Linked DNA regions of Homo sapiens: region 2 is linked to region 1. The links come from fine-mapping of genetic effects on gene expression. Tissue or cell type: lymphoblastoid cells. Region 1 holds a variant in brackets; the other region holds the start of a gene. All regions are shown on one strand. Distances are between the middles of the regions.

Region 1 (8,104 bases):
GTATGAATGTACTAAGTTTATTCAACTAGTTCCCTATTGATGGGTATCTATGTTGTTTCCCAATGTTTGCTCTTCTGCTGACGCTAAATAATGCTGAAATAAATAATTTAAGACATATCAATTTGCACGTAGGTGAATACATCTGAAGCATAAATTTCTAGAACTATAAAAGCTGGGTTAAAGGGTATGTATACACTTTTTAAATTTTTGTAGGTATTATCAAACTGCCTTCCATAAAGGGTGTCCTAATTCACAGACTACCCACAAAGTAGGTAAATACCATTTCCTCATGCTCTTGTCAACTAGTGAGAAATGTCTTCTGGATCTTTGACAATTTGATAGGTAATCTCAAAAAAAAAAAAAAAAGAAAAAAGAAAAAAAGAAAAATGAAAAAGAAAAGAAGAAAAGCACCTGGGTAGCTTTAACTAGCATTTCTCTAATGGCCAAGGTTGGGTATATTTTCTTTTCTTTTCTTTTTTGATCTCAGCTCACCGCAGCCTCTGCCTCCCAGGTTCAAGCAATTATCCTGCCTCAGCCTCCCGAGTAGCTGGGATTACAGGCGTGTGCCACCATGCCTGGCTAATTTTTGTGTTTTTTTTTTTTTTTTTTTTTTAGTAGAAATGGGGTTTCACCATGTTGGCCAGGCTGGTCTCGAACTTCTGACCTCAGATGATCCGCCTCCCTCAGCCTCCCAAACTGCTGGGATTACAGGTGTGAACCACCGTGCCCAGCCGGGTATATTTTCATTTGTTTAAGAATCACTGGTAGTTTCTTTTTTTTTAAGATGGAGTCTCGCTCTGTCACTCAGGTTGGAGCGCAGTGGTGCGATTCTGGCTCACTGCAACCTCTGCCTCCTGGGTTCAAGTGATTCTCCTGCTTCAGTCTCCCAGGTAGCTAGGACTATAGATGCCTACCATCATGTCCAGCTAATTTTTGTAGTTTTAGTACAGACAGGGTTTCACCATGTCGGCCAGGCTAGTCTTCGACTCCTGACCTCAGGTGATCCACCCACCTTGGCCTCCCAAAGTGCTGGCATTACAGGTGTGAGTCATCACACTGGGCCCTAGTAATTTATTTCTGCTCTCCTTTATTTTCTTTGCCTATTTCCCTGCTGGATGTTGATCTTTATCTAATTGCTTTATAGGAGCTCTTCATCTATGAGGAAAATCAGATCTTTGTCTATGATAAACATTGCAAATATTTTCTCAAGATTGTCATTTTTGTTTTTGCCAGTTTTGGTCATATAGATATTTTCCATTTTTATACAGCTGAATTTATCAGTATTTTATTGTATGAGTTCTGGCTTTTATGTCAGAGATTAACAAAATTTCTTTCTCATGGTTTCTTTTGGTATCTTTGTTGTTTAATTTTATGTTTATTTAAATTTATAATTCATCTGGAAATCTATCCTGAAGTTAAGATGTGGGATATGGCTACAATTTTATTTTTCCAAATGGTTATTGAATTTCCAAACACCATTTGGAGAAAAATACTTCTTTCCCCACTTACCTGATATGCCACTTTTACCATATATTTGCTAAACTTTCTATTTTGTTCAAATAACCTGTTTACTCATATATCATATAGTTTTAATTATTGTAGTGCTATAATGTTTTAATATCTGGTAAGGATAGATCCCCTTTCACTATACTTTTCAGAATTTTCCTGAGTTCCTTTTTCTTTTTTTGAGACAGGGTCTCACTTTGTTGCCCAGCCTGGAGTGCAGTGGTGAGATGACAGCTGCTCACTGCAGCCTCAACCTCCTGGGCTCAAGCGATCCTCACACCTCAGCCCCCTACTCCGGGTAGCTGGGACTACAGACAAGTGCCACTCAGCTAATTTCTGTACTTTTTGTAGAAATGAGGTTTTGCCATCTTGCCCAGGCTGGTCTCAAACTCCTAGGCTCAAGTGATCCACCCACCTCGGCCTCCCAAAGTGCTGGGATTGATAACAGGAGTGAGCCACTGCACCCGATTCTAAGTTTCTTTTTCAATATGATTTTTTTTTTTTTTTTAGATGGAGTCTTGCTCTGTTTCCCAGGATGGAGTGCAGTGGCGCGATCTCGGTTCATTGCAAGCTCCGCCTCCCCGGTTCACCCCCTTCTCCTGCCTCAGCCTCCCAAGTAGCTGGGACTACAGGCGCCCGCCGCCATGCTCGGCTAACTTTTTGTATTTTTAGTAAAGATGGGGTTTCACCATGTTAATGAGGATGGTCCTGATCTCCTGACCTCGTGATCCGCCCGCCTTGGCTTCCCAAAGTGCTGGGATTACAGGCATGAGCCACCGCGCCCGGCCTTCAATATGATTTTTAAAATGAGTTCACATAGTATCAACTTCCTCACAAGCAAATTCCCACTGGTATATCTAATGGGATCATATTAAAGATTAATTTAGGGAGGATGGACATCTTTATGACATTGAAACCTACCTAGGCATATGGTACTGCTTTGCAATTTGTTCAAGCATTCATTCAATAGCATTTTAAAACTTTTTTCATACAGATGTGGCATATCTTGTTAAGTTTATCTAAGGTATTTTATTAGTACTGAATCTTTTAAGATAATAGGTTTGTTATTTATTTATATTCAATCATCTCACTTCTCTTACTGTTTGCCATGATTTCTTAGTTGATGCTCTTGAATTTTCACCTCCTTACTTTTCTTATTTTAGACTTCTGTTTCTTCTAACTCCACTGGCTAGTACCTCTAGAACAATGTTAAATAAGTGTGATAAGGACATCCCTATTTTGTTTCTTTTCTTTTTTTGTTTTTTGTTTGAGACGGAGTCTCACTCTGTCGCTAGGCTGCAGTGTAGTGACTCGATCTTGGCTCACTGCAACCTCCACCTCCCAAGTTCAAGTGATTCTTTTGCCTCAGCCTCCCCAGTAGCTGGGATTAAAGGCACCCACCACCACGCCCACATCAGCTAATTTTTGTATTTTTAGTAGAGACAGAGTTTCACCATGCTGACCAGGCTGGTCTCGAATTCCTGACCTCAGGTGATCCGCCCTCCTTGGCCTCTCATAGTGCTGGAATTACAGGCATGAGCCATCGCACCCAGCCAGAACATCCCTATTTTGCTCTTGACCTTAACAGGAATGTTCATAGCTAACAACTTACTAAACATGTATATGAAAAACAGGTCAGAAACATTTCCAAAGCTTAAAATAGCTACAATTACTATCACTGCTTTGAACTTACACAGCACTTTTATTTACATAATTCAAAGGCCTTTTAATTCAGAAAAGGGATAATTACAATTTTCCATATTTTATAGAAGGAAAAATAGACATTAGGAAAAAATAATAATTCTGCTTACAACCAAAGAGTAAAAGTGATTGGTGGCTTTGGAATGGAGGTGGTATCTCTGTGTCCTGACTTGGAGCTCCTACCAAGCCCCCAAAAGACAGGGAAAAGATGAAAGTTTAGAAAACTTCATTTAATAAAGTATAAAAAAATTATCAAGACCTGCTGGATTTTGATTGGAATTGGAACGAACCAATAGATCAATTTGGGGGGAACTGGCATCTTTTTAATATTGAATTTTCCAGCTATAAATATGATGGATAACTTTCATTTACTTATGTCTTCAATTTCTCAATAATTTTCTTATAGTTGTGTGTGTGTGCGCACATGTGTGCACATGCGTGTGCAGGTGCCCTACACATCTTTGTTTCTTCGTTTTTTTTTTTTTTGGTAGAGTTTCCTTCTGTTGTCCAGGCTGGTCTTGAACTCCTGGTGTCAAGCGACTCTCCCATCTTGGCCTCTCAAAGTGTTGGGACTACAGGCATGAGCTACCACGTTGGCTATCTTTTAAAGATTTATTCCTGGCTGGGTGCCATGGCTCATGCCTGTAATCTCAGCACTTTGGGAGGCCGAGGCAGGCGCCTCACGAGGTCAAGAGATTGAGACCATCCTGGTCAACATGGTGAAATGCTGTCTCTACTAAATATACAAAAATTAGCTGGGCATGGTGGCACACGCCTGTGGTCCCAGCTGCTCGGGAGGCTGAGGCAGGAGAATCGCTTGAACCCAGGAGGTGGAGGTTGCAGTGAGCCGAGATTGTGCCACTGCACTGCAGCCTGGACGACAGAACGAGACACTGTCTCCAAAAAAAAAAAAAAAAAAGATTGGCCAGGCGTGGTGGCTCACGTCTGTAATCCCAGCACTTTGGGAGACTGAGGAAGGTGGATCACGAGGTCAGGAGATCAAGGCCATCCTGGCCAACATGGTGAAACCCCGTCTCTACTAAAATACAAACAATTATCCTGGCATGGTGGCGCATGCCTGTAGTCCCAGCTACTCAGGAGGCTGAGGCAGGGGAATAGCTTGAACCCAGGAGGTGGAGGTTGCGGTGAACCGAGATTGCACCATTGCACTCCAGCCTGGGCAACAAGAGCGAAACTCCATCTCAAAAAAAAAAAAAAAAAAAAAAAAAAGATTTATTCCTAGGTATTGAATGCAAATGGTAATAATTTTCTAATTGCTCACTGATGGGATACAGATACAGAAATAGAAATATTGGGGCTAGGTAAGGTAGCTCATGCCTATAATCCCAGCACTTTCGGGGAGGCTGAGCAGGGAGGATGCTTGAGGCCAGGAGTTTGAGACCAGCCTGAGCAAGAGGGATACCTCATCTCCCCAAAAAAAAAAAAAAAAAAAAAAAAAAAAAAAATTAGCTGGGAGTGGTGGTACATCCCTATAGTCCCAGCTTCTTGGAAGGCTGAGATGGGAGGATTGCTTGCGCCCAGGAGTTGGAGGCTGCAGTGAGTTATGATTGTACCATTGCACTCCAGTTTGGATAACAAAGCGAGATCTTGTCTCAAACAAAACAAAAAAAACTTCATATTTTCATTTACTAATTTTAATAGTTTATCTGAATATCTCTTGGATTTTCTACATACCTAATATTTTT[GA/G]AAAAAAAAAAAAAGGCCCTTTTGTTTTTCCTTTCAAATCTTTAGATCTTTTATCTTCCTTGCCTTACTGAGGACAGTTTTTAAATTAATGAAACGTTATAAAAATCTACTGTGAAGGGAACAAAACCTGCAAATAAATTAGGAATCGGCATGTTTCAAGAGCCCAGGTTCCTGGAAATTTTATCACCTAAGGGGTTAAGGGTAGAGGTACTGTCTGCCACATGTGGCCATCTGATTACTGTTTAAGTTCTTTTTTTTTTTGAGACGGAGTCTCACCCTGTCACTCAGGCTGGAATCCAGTAGAGTGATCTCAGCGCACTGCAACCTCTCCCTCACAGGTTCTAGCGATTCTCCTCCCTCAGCCTCTGAGTAGCCGGGATTACAGGAATGCACCACCACAGCTGGCTAATTTTTTTTTGTATTTTTAGTAGAGATGGGGTTTTACCATGTTGGCCAGGCTGGTCTTGAACTCCTGATCTCAAGTGATCCACCTGCCTCAGCCTCCCAAAGTGCTGGGATTATAGGCGTGAGCCATTGTGCCCAGCTTGATTACTGTTTAAGTAAATGAAAACAATTCTTCAACGAAACTGAAAAAAGAACATAACCGTTGGAAAAACAGGATTGTCTCCTTTGTATGTAACAGAAGATGAAAAAATGATACACCTCATCTAATTATCTTCAAAACTTCTATTTCAGAGACACAAAAAAGTGCAAAATATGATTTACATTTAATAGTGGTTAGAGTTAATACAATGAAATTATAAATTCTCTAAAGCTTATATAACAAAACCCTTTTTCCTTGGAGGCTGGGGACAGTGAATTCCACAAGCTAGGCTGAAATCCCACTTTGTGATTACTAGATGCATTTTCTTTTGGGTTTTATCTCAAGATGAAGTTACTTATATTTCATTATATGCCTGTTGTCCTACCTGATATTACTGGCACCTCCTTTAATTCTCAAAAGTGTGCCAGCTAGCTGTAGACTAACTAAAGAAGAATTAGGAAAACCTAGGTTTTAGTTCTGGCCCACTCCCTGGGTAGTAACTTCACCTTTCTGACAATATCAGCATCTTTCTTCCAGGGTCATGTTGAAAATTAAATGAGATCCTGGATATAAAACTGGTAGATAAACTGTAGAATGCAACACATTTTCTTTCTTTCTTTTTTTTTTTTGTTACATAGAGTCTCTTGCTCTGTCTCCAGCCACAGGCTGGAGTGCAGTGGCTTGATCTCAGCTCACTGCAACCTCCACCTCTCGGGTTCAAACAATTCTCTTGCCTCAGCCTCTCTAGTAGCTGGGATTACAGGTGCACACCACCACGCCCGGCTAATTTTTGTATTTTTAGTAAAGATGGGGTTTCACCACGTTGGCCAGGCTGGTCTCTTAACTCCTAATCTCAGGTGATCTGCCTGCCTCAACCTCCCAAAGTACTGGGATTACAGGCATGAGCCACCATGCCCGGCCAGAATGTAACACATTCTAACAGGCATCTTTAGAAAGAAATTACTCCAAGTTATGTCAGTGAATATGGAGGAGTAGTGAGCTCTAAGGGCCATTACTTCACAGAAACAGTGAAAAAAGCAGAATAAACTTTATTGGAATTCTGTAAGATAGTCAAAGGTTTACAGCAACCAAGCAAATGCTTAATTAAGAAAAAAAGTGACTGAAACTTGGCAGGAAAGCTCTGTGGCATTTTAACTTACCCTCACTCCATTCCTTACTTTCTGTCTCAGTGGCAGCCTTGAAGATGGCAGCCTCTATTCCTGGTGTAAGATTGTGGTGATAGAGGAAGCAAAACAGCTCCATGCTCCAAGAACTGTGGTCATCTGTTTTGACCTGTCAGGCAGCTTTCTAAACACTAATGCAAAGTGCTTGCCTTTATTGTGCTTAGCTTGGAATTCCCTTGGTGGAGAAGTGTCTAGGTTTTTTTGTCAAAAACATTTTGTCTTAGTTTGTTTGTGCTGCTATAACAGAATACCACAGACTGGGTAATTTATAAAGAACAGTTTTCTCACAGTTCTGGAGGCTGGAAAGTCCAAGATAAAGGTGCCAGCATCTGGCAAGGGCTTTCTTGCTATGTCATCATATTTCAGAAGGCAGAGGGCAAGAGTGTAAGAGACAGCAAACCCATTCAGACAGAGCAGACCCATTTACATGAGCCCTTTTTATAAAAGCAATATTGTATTCACGAGGACAAGCCCTCATGACCTAAACATCTCCTAAAAGTCCCCACTTCCCAACACTGTTGCACTAGGGATTACACTTTAAGTCATGAATTTCGAAGGGGGCACAAACATTCAAATCACAGCACATTTAAAGTCAAATGAACCAGCTGTTGCCGGCTGGGGCAAAGGGTATCAGTCAGGACCAACAGTAGATATGACAAAAGGCCTCAGAGGAAAAGATGAGGAGTGAGATGCTTTGGCCAATAAGGGTTTTGAAAAGTTTCCACACATTCCTGGGAGCCTAGAAGGCCACACACATGCCAACAATAGTGTACATGCTCAGAAAGGACCTAAGAAGGCCCTAAGATCTCATTTCTGGCTGACCTTCAAGCTCTGCACAAGTAGGAAGTAAAGGCAAAGCAGAGTTGTAATCTGCATGGCTGAGTGTTGAAGGTGTGCTCCACCATACGCAGAGAAGTCAGCAGTGAAGACTGGGAGTTTTATGGTTTTATTGGCTCCACGTATTTACGAAAACCTCTGTCAAATCACTGGCTGATCACTAAGCTTATAGAACAGAGACTGTAGTAACCATATACAACAACAACAAAAATCTTTTATTTTTTGAGACAGGGTCTCACTCTGTTGCCCAGGCTGGAGTGCAGTGGCATGATCATGGCTCACTGCAGCCTCGACCTCCCTGGGCTCAAGTGATCCTACCACCTCAGCCTCCTGAGTAGCTGGGACCATGGATATAGACCACCACACCTGGATAATTTCTGTATTTTTTTGTAGAGACAGGGTTTCGCCATCTTGCCCAGGCTGGTCTCGAACTCCTGGGCTCAAGCGACCTGCCCATGTCAGCCTCCCAAAGTGCTGGGATTAAAGGTGTGAGCCACTGTGCCCAGCCAAAAATACAATCTTTAAAACAAACCAAACAAACAAACAAACAAACAAACGTTTAGAAGAGTCACTGAACAAACAACCATAACCTATAATAAGTATTAAGAACAAAGCCTGAGGATGG
Region 2 (8,104 bases), 200 kb after region 1:
GGGAAGCGGAGCTTGCAGTGAGCCAAGATTGCGCCACTGCAGTCCGTAGTCCGGCCTGGGCGACAGAGCGAGACTCCGTCTCAAAAAAAAAAAAAATATGTTTACAGGCCAGGCGCAGTGTTCAGCAGTTTGGGAGGCCGAGGTGAGCGGATCACTTGAGGCCAGGAGTTCAAGACCAGCCTGGGCAACATGGCAAAACCCCATCTCTACTAAAAAAATACAAAAATTAGCTGGGCATGGTGACGCACGCCTATAATCCCAGCTACTTGGGAGGCTGAGGCACAAGAATCACTTGAACCCAGGAGGTGGAGGTTGGAATGAGCCACGATTGTGCCACTGCACTCGAATCTGGGCGACAGTGACACTCTGTCTTAAAAAAAAAACAATGCTTACAAACTCCACTGATGGTAGGACAACTTATACAAAGTCAGACGCACAGTCCTCTCAGACCCATGAAATCCTCAGCTTAATAATATTTTCAAGTACAGCAAGAGCATTTTTATTTAGAGAAAGTATCTCAGCCGGGCGTGGTGGCTCACGCCTATAATCCCAGCACTTTGGGAGGCCGAGGCAGGTGGATCACCTGAGGTCAAGAGTTCGAGACCAGCCTGGCCAACATGGTAAAACCCCATCTCTACTAAAAATACAAAAAAAAAAATTAGCCAGGTATGGTGGCAGGCGCCTGTAATCCCAGCTACTTGGGAGGCTGAGGCAGGAGAATCGCTTGAACCTGGGAGGTGGAGGTTGCAGTGAGCCGAGATCGTGCCATTGCACTCCAGCCTAGATAACAAAAACAAAACTCCGTCTCAAAAGAAAAAAAAAAAAAGAGAGAAAGTATCTCAGAATTTAAACATGGTCAATTAATTCTGGACAAGTCTACCCAGTTCCAAAATAGTATTTCATAAACGTCTCGCTTTTGAGTTATATGCATATTAAAACACAAACTTGTAGGAACACTTATTCCATCTTAAGGAATGATGTGCTGCCCAATTCTAAAAAATAAAAAAAAGAAAACTTGTTTTGCATTCCCATCTACTGTACCCCAGCAGACTGACAGATGAAATCACTGGGCATATCAATTAGCCTAGCCACCTTTCAGCATGACACGACTGACCAATGGATAACAAACATAGTCACTCTATGCTCTTGGTTGCCTCAGGGTCCTTAAAATTGACTTTGCTATAAATGGTAATTGAGTGGGCTTCCCCTGCAATCAGACATGAAATCTATGTCTATTTTAATATAGGTATCACTTACTTAGAAAAGTTCCAATGCTACAGAAAGAGTGACTGGGTCAACTTCACAAATGAATTTTCCAAAAAATACATTTCTATATGTAAGTATCTGAAGAAAAATTTTCCTAAAATACACCTGCCATCTTCTTGCCATCTGGGAACAAGCTAGGATGCTATTAGTCTACACAGTACCTGCAAAGCCATGGCGATCTGTACAAACCACTCTACCACCTGATTCTCAGGCAGAAGCTGCCCTTTCTGCTCCTTGAGCTTTCGGTACAAATCACCTCCTTCACAGAAGCCCATGACAATGTAGAGCAGACCATCTCCTCCTTCCCATGACTCCTTGTAGGTGACAATGTTGGGATGCTTCAACTGAGACAAGAGCTGGGCTTCCTGTTCAGCAGCTCGCCGCTCTCGGCTAGAGGCATTTCGGAGGTTCAGTTTTTTGATGACATACTAAAAACAAACCATGTATTTTTACAATGTGCAAATAAACGTAAGATTTGTGGCCTCAGAGTTATCTAAGGGCTCTCAAGAATACCCTCAAAACCAACCTTGTGGAGCCTGTCAGATAACCTATTCATTTTGTTTTTCACCAAGCACAAAATCGGGGAAAATATTTGCTATTATTGATACTTCTTATAAGTTAGATTTATAGCAGTGTAGGGCCACAAAAATTACCTTTCCCATCTGCATTTCACAATTTCATTAATGACTAAAAAAAGTGAGTTCAAGATAACATACCATTGGATCAATTATAAAACCTGTGTTAGCAATTCCTTAATATCTGGCCATACACAGTGGCTCACACCTGTAATCCCAGCACTTTGGGAGGGTGAGGCGGGTGGATCACCTGAGGTCAGGAGTTCAAGACCAGCCTGGTCAACATGGTGAAACCTGTCTCTACTAAAAATACAAAAATTAGCCCGGCGTGGTGGTGTGTACCCATAGTCCCAGCAACTCGGGAGGCTGACACAGGAGAATTGCTTGAACCTGGGAGGCAGTAGTTGCAGCAGTGAGCCAACATCGCACCACTGCACTCCAGCCTGGGAGGCAGAGCAAGACTCTGTCTCAAAAAAAATAAAAAATAAAAAAAGAAATTCCTTAATATCTAAGCTCTCCCAAAAAGGTGAATAAAATATAGCTTGACTATACATTTGCAGACAGAATAGTCTGTGGATTACGTTAGATACTCAAAGGGATCCATGGCCCCATAAGTTTAATAGTCACTGATCTTCAGCATACAAAATTATTCACACTTAAAAGAAATCAATAGCCTCTAATACCTAATACATTGCCCTCAATCATTTCAAAGACCATACAATTCATTTCTTCAACACATAGATAAATGTGTTTTGTGAAGTGTAAACTAAAGCTCAAATAACTAGCTATTGCTAGTTCCCTATCATCAGCCCCAAAATCCAATGATTCCCCCAATGCCTACTGAATAAATTTCTTATGCATGAGCTTGTGTTCCACGCAAAGCAACTAGCACCAGAGACAAGGAAGAACAGGCAATTGGGCCCTATATTTAGGGGGAACATCTCTTCTCAGCTTGCCTGGAGCAGTCCTACTGTCCTGGTGTAACTATTAATAATGCCTTTCAGTTTCAAAATTGTCCCAGTTTGTACATTATATTGTCACCCTATTAATAAACCACATTGAATAATTGGTTCATTATCCTGAGAGTAATGGGATAAAGTGTTTTAAACAGAGGAGTGACAACATCAGATTTAAATTTGAGAAAGATCACTGAGGCTGCAGTGAAAGTGATGGATTGGAGAAAAGCAAGTCAAGTGGCGGCGACCAGTTGGGAAACCGTGGCCATAGCTTTGCTAGAGACAACAGGGTGTCCTGGATTGGGGTGGTAGCAGTAGAGATGAGAGGAGGCCTATTGTCTTAGTGATAGATGAATATAATCAGTGTTGGGGTGCGTGGGGAGGCTTAAAAATGACTCCAGGTGTCCGGCTTGGGCAACTGGTGGGTTGGTGTCACTATTCACTGAAACGGAAGACATGAGAGAAGGTTTGGCGGGAAGAAAATGAGTCGAGTTTTAAGTGAATCCAGCAGTCTACAGTAGAGACGTTTGGGGCCCTTCATTCAAGGAATAATGCTTGCTAGGCGCTGTATTAAGTCCTGGGAATGCATGATACCGGCTCTCATGAGAGTATCGGGGTTGGGAGAAAGGTGTGTAGATCACGCATGCCAATTAGTACAACAAAGAAGTAGATAGGCAGAGACTGAAAATTTTTACATAAAACTTAGAATTGTAATTAAAGAAAATGAAAATTAAAAGGAAAAAAATTTAACACAACAAAGAAGTAGAAGTAGTTCTGGGCGCATATTACAGGGAGGCCAGGCCTCGTCTTGGTCTGGGACCATTTCCCTGAGGAAACGCCATCCGAGATGAGCCTCTTGCGACCACCCCCGACCTAATCTACCGGTCGGCGCCCTCGGCGCACTTCTGCCCGCCCCCGCCCCTTGCCGGGCCCCACCCCTGCAGACCTGCTTGCCGTCCCGCCGGTGCTTCACAAGCGTCACCTCTCCATAGCTCCCCTTGCCCACGACCCGCAGGTAGCAGTAGGCGGCCAGGGGCATGTTCCCAGCGCTGGCCCAGAGTCGGGATGCGGCGGCAGCGGCGGGTAGGGCAGCGGGCGGCAACAAGAAGCTCGGTTCATGCCCGAGAGGGGGCAGTGGGGGCGGCTGTTGAGGCAGCCGGGCCCGGGCGGGATTGCTGGGGCCCGGCCCGCGACGACGCCGCTGCCATAGCGATCCGGGCCGGGAGCAGTTCTGCGCATGCTCCTGCGTCCCCAAAGGACGGCCATAGAGCGGACGCCACGAGCGGCCAGAGAGGTTCCGCAGCCCCGGGAGGACCCGCCATAGAGCAGAGGCTCCAGGAGGCCAGAGCGACTCCGCCAGGCTCCGCGCACTTTCTGTGCGTCCGTTCCACCGTCCGGATCCCCGCCACAACAGAGTCAGGGAAAGCTTCCTCTTTTTGTGCACTTGTTTGTCCTAAGGCCGTTACAAGTATTGTTCGTTCATTCTGCAAATATTTGTTGACCGCCTATGTGCCAGGCCAACAAAGTCCCTGCCCTCCTGGAGCTCATGTTCTAATGACTGGGTGACAGACTCTCTACCAGTAACATTTGCTGTATCCGCTTTATCACATGCCGTCTCTGCATCCAGCAATCCATCCTATTTTTTGATACATTCAAAGTAAATTATCAGTACCTTTCATCCCTAAAAACTCGCCTGCTAATTGAGAACTACAAAGACTCCTCAGCATTTAACGACTACCCTAACCACTGCACTAAGAGACTTGACTAAACTCTAACATGGCATCATGCTAAGTTAACAGCCTAAGGGCGGATCTCTAGGTGGGCCTAGGCCCCTTTAAAATGCCTGCCCAAGAAAGCTCAGGGGTGCCAAAAGAATTCACCATTTGTTCCAGCCAAAGCCTCCCTTTCCCAGAGCGCTTCCTTTTTTTCCTTTTTTTTTTTTTTTTTTTTTTTTGAGACAGGGTCTCGCCCTGCCACCCAGCTTGGAGTGCAGTGGTGCAATGGTGCTCACTGCTGCCTAGACTTCCTGGGCTCAAGCCATCCTCCCAACTACAGGCACACACGTCCATGCCTGGCTAATCCTATTTTATTTTTTTTCAGAGACAGGGTGTCACTATGTTCCCCAGACCGGTCTTGAACTCCTCGGCTCAAGCAATTCACCCACGTTGGCCTCCCAAAATGCCGTTATTACAGGTGTGCGCCATCGTGCCTGGCCTCTTTCCTTTTTATGGCCAAATAATATTCCATTATATGTATACACCACAATTTGTTTATCCATTCATGCAGTCATGGACACGGATAGCTTCCATCTTTTGGCTATTGTGAATAATTCGGCTATGAACATGGGTGTACGAATATCTGTTTGAGTCCCTGCTTTCTTTTTAATTCATTTGGGTATACACTCAGAAGTGAAATTGCTGGATCATATGCTAATTCTAGTTTAATGTATTGAGAAACCACCACACCATTTTTTACAGCAAGCTGAACCATTTTACATTCCCATTAGCAATCCACAGGGGTTCAAATTTCTCCTCATCCTTGATATATATCTTGATAGGAGATTTGGGTGTATGAATTTGTCAAAATTATCTAATGGTACATTTAGTATTTGCACATTTTACTCAAAGCAATTTCATCTTCACTAGAAAACCAAACAAAAAGAACCATAAATAAAGATTGAACTCTAGTTAATGATATTATTAAAGATAAACAAAGCCAGGCATTAAAATGATGAAAATAGATTTTATTCAGTAACTACTGACAGTAGGGGAAGCAGCTGAACTCCATTCCATTTGCGCAGGGGTGATTGGGCATTCCAAAGGAAGAATAAGGGAGTAGGCAGGGGAGCATGCAGGGGCTCACTTAGAGTCTGGGAAGTGAAAAATTAAAAGGAGTGCTTAGCGTAAATGTGATTAGGCCAACTGTGTCTGCTAGCTGGCAATTAGGGAAGTTAGGATTCTATTCTCCCACATAGACTGGGAGACATGAGCCCTACCTTTATGATGATTACATTCCAAAGGAATGGATTTCAGGTCCTTGAGAAAGACATTCCTAGGTTGTAGGAAATACATAGGTATATATCTCAGAGGGACAGAGGAAGGATTTGTAATTGTAGCTTTTTAAAGTTAGTGCTCTAGAGGCCACACACTATGACTCACACCTAATCCCAGCACTTTGAGAGGCCAAGGTGGGAGGATCACTTGAGACCAGCCTACGAAACACAGTGAGACCCCCTTCTCTACAAAAAATTTTTAAAATTAGCTGGGTGTGGTGGCGCATGCCTGTAGTCCCAGCTACCTGGGAGGCTGAGGTGGGAGAATCAGTTGAGCCTCGGAGGTTGAGGCTGCAGTGAGCCATGATCCTGCCACTGCACTCCAGCTGAGTGACAGAGTGAGACTCTGTCTCAAAATAAATAAATTTTTAAAAAGGAAGGATGTTCTGACATGCTACAACATGGACGACCCCTGAGGACATTATGCTAAACAAAATAAGGCAGTCACAGAGGACAAAAGTATGATTTCGCTTATGTGAGGTACCTGTAGTAGTCAAAGTCATAGATTCAGAAAGTAGAATGGTGGTTGCCAGTTGTTGGAGAGAGGAGGGAATTGGTGGTTGGTGTTTAATGGGTGCAGAGTTTTAGCTGGGGAAAATGAAAAAGTCCTGGAGATGGATGGTGGTGATGGATGCAAAACATGAATGTACTTATGCCACCGAACTGTATTCTTAAAAATGGTTAAATAATAAATTTTATGTTTTGTATATTTTACCACAATAAAAAATTATGGCACACTGCTCCTGTAATCCCAGCTACTCAGGAGGCCGAGGCATGAGAATCACGTGAACCCGGGAGGCGGAGATTGCATTGGGCCAAGATCATGTCACTGCACTCCAGCCTGGGCGACAGAGCAATACTCCTTCTAAAAAAAAAAAAAAAAAAAAAAACCTATCATTCATTCTACAGACATTTAGCAAGGGTCTACTAGCCTGGACCTGGAGGACAACTATGAACAAGACAGACAAGGGCCTGCCCATGTGGGGCTTACTGTCGAAGAGGGAGACGGCCATGCATACTAACAAGCTACCCTTGCCAACTGAGGTCAGTACTGTTCAGAAAAGCCGCCAGGCCCAGCCTGGCCATCCAGGAGAGGTTGCCCCAAGCAAGCACCGCATGAGTGGAAGTTTAAACAAAAACTTTTTCAGGCAGAGGAGCAACATGTGCTAAGATCCAGTGGATTCATTTTGTGACTTTACCTCCACACCGCAATGTGAACTCCCTGAGGACGAGGCCAGGCCTGTCTGCTTCAACACCCTAAACCCAGCAGGTATAAATGAAGGAATTGCCGCTTGCTGAATGAATGAATGGAGAAGCACCTGCCTACCTGGATCTAAAAGAAGTCTCTGCAGTTGAAGCTGAGAGACTCAGAGGGGCCATGGGCTAGGTGACATAGAGGGGTCAGCAGGGGCCATACCACTCAGGATAGGGTGTGCGAGACAGGGAAAGGCCTGCGGCAGACTGACCTTTCTAAATGGTGACTCTGGCTGCTGCCTGGAGCAGAGCAGAAGGAGGAGATGAGCCGTCTAAATGAGGGATGAGGGCAGCTTGAACTAGGTGGTGACGGGGGATGGGGAGAGAAGTTAATGGATTAGAGGGATATTCAGAGGGTGGGAGGTGGGGTAGGTGGTCAAGGAGACTGAGGCACCCAGGATGCCACCCAGCCTTCTGGCTTGGATGGCCAACTAGATGGCGGTGGCCTTGACTGGAGTGGACAACAGGGGGAAGATCTGGCTTAGTAACGGGGTGTGGGGAGGAGGAGACAAAGGTCAGGAGTTCAGTTTGGACATACCAGATGGAGGGGCTGTGGGCACATCAAGCAGACAGTTGGCTGTGTGTGGGTGGCGCTCAGAGCAGGTCTGGGCCCATGTGCTGTCCCACCGGCACCAGCAGCACAGCTACACTCCCCATTCTCAATCCTCAGCAACCATAGCTGCTTTCTGTCCACCCTGGCCCCCACCTCCCACATGCATATGGTGGGCCAACGTCTCTTTCTCTGTACCATGAGGATAATAGTAACAATAATATCTGTCTCTTGTGGGGAGTTGTGAGCAGTAAATGAATTCGGACGTGATGCTAAGAAGCATGACAGGCACAGGTCATAGTTAGCTCTCCCCATCTCCTGTCCACCCTCCCCCTGTGCAAACATGCTTCTAGCACTTTACATGGACCAGGCTTGGTGCTAGCCATCTCTCAACAGCCCAGTCTTGAACTCATCACACCCTTGCTTAAAATATCTTAAGTATCTCCCACCC

Alleles and levels. Positions count from the first base shown, and alleles are read on the strand shown. Sizes are in standard deviations (SD) of each study's normalised expression.
For the expression in lymphoblastoid cells of the gene that starts at base 4,030 in region 2, allele G in region 1 goes with a higher level than allele GA (large effect, 1.5 SD a copy in GEUVADIS).

What was found. PIP is the estimated chance that this variant, and not a neighbour inherited with it, causes the effect.
Region 2: NEK4 starts here. The variant in region 1 is fine-mapped to the expression of NEK4 in lymphoblastoid cells (GEUVADIS, PIP 0.95).

What each region holds. Positions count from the first base shown.
Region 1 is chr3:52,567,216-52,575,319 of GRCh38, forward strand. All of the region lies in intron 24 of PBRM1 (polybromo 1), which reads right to left. Among named protein-coding and RNA genes, the nearest start is that of UQCC5, 35 kb to the left of the region's middle. RefSeq lists a silencer at 5,085-5,285. The variant GA/G (reference allele first, on the strand shown) is at 4,914.
Region 2 is chr3:52,766,911-52,775,014 of GRCh38, forward strand. NEK4 (NIMA related kinase 4) reads right to left here and starts at 4,030. Exons shown (of 16, transcript NM_003157.6): 1 at 3,744-4,030; 2 at 1,428-1,694. The coding sequence starts at 3,836. RefSeq lists enhancers at 3,807-4,324, 4,112-4,161 and a silencer at 3,842-3,951.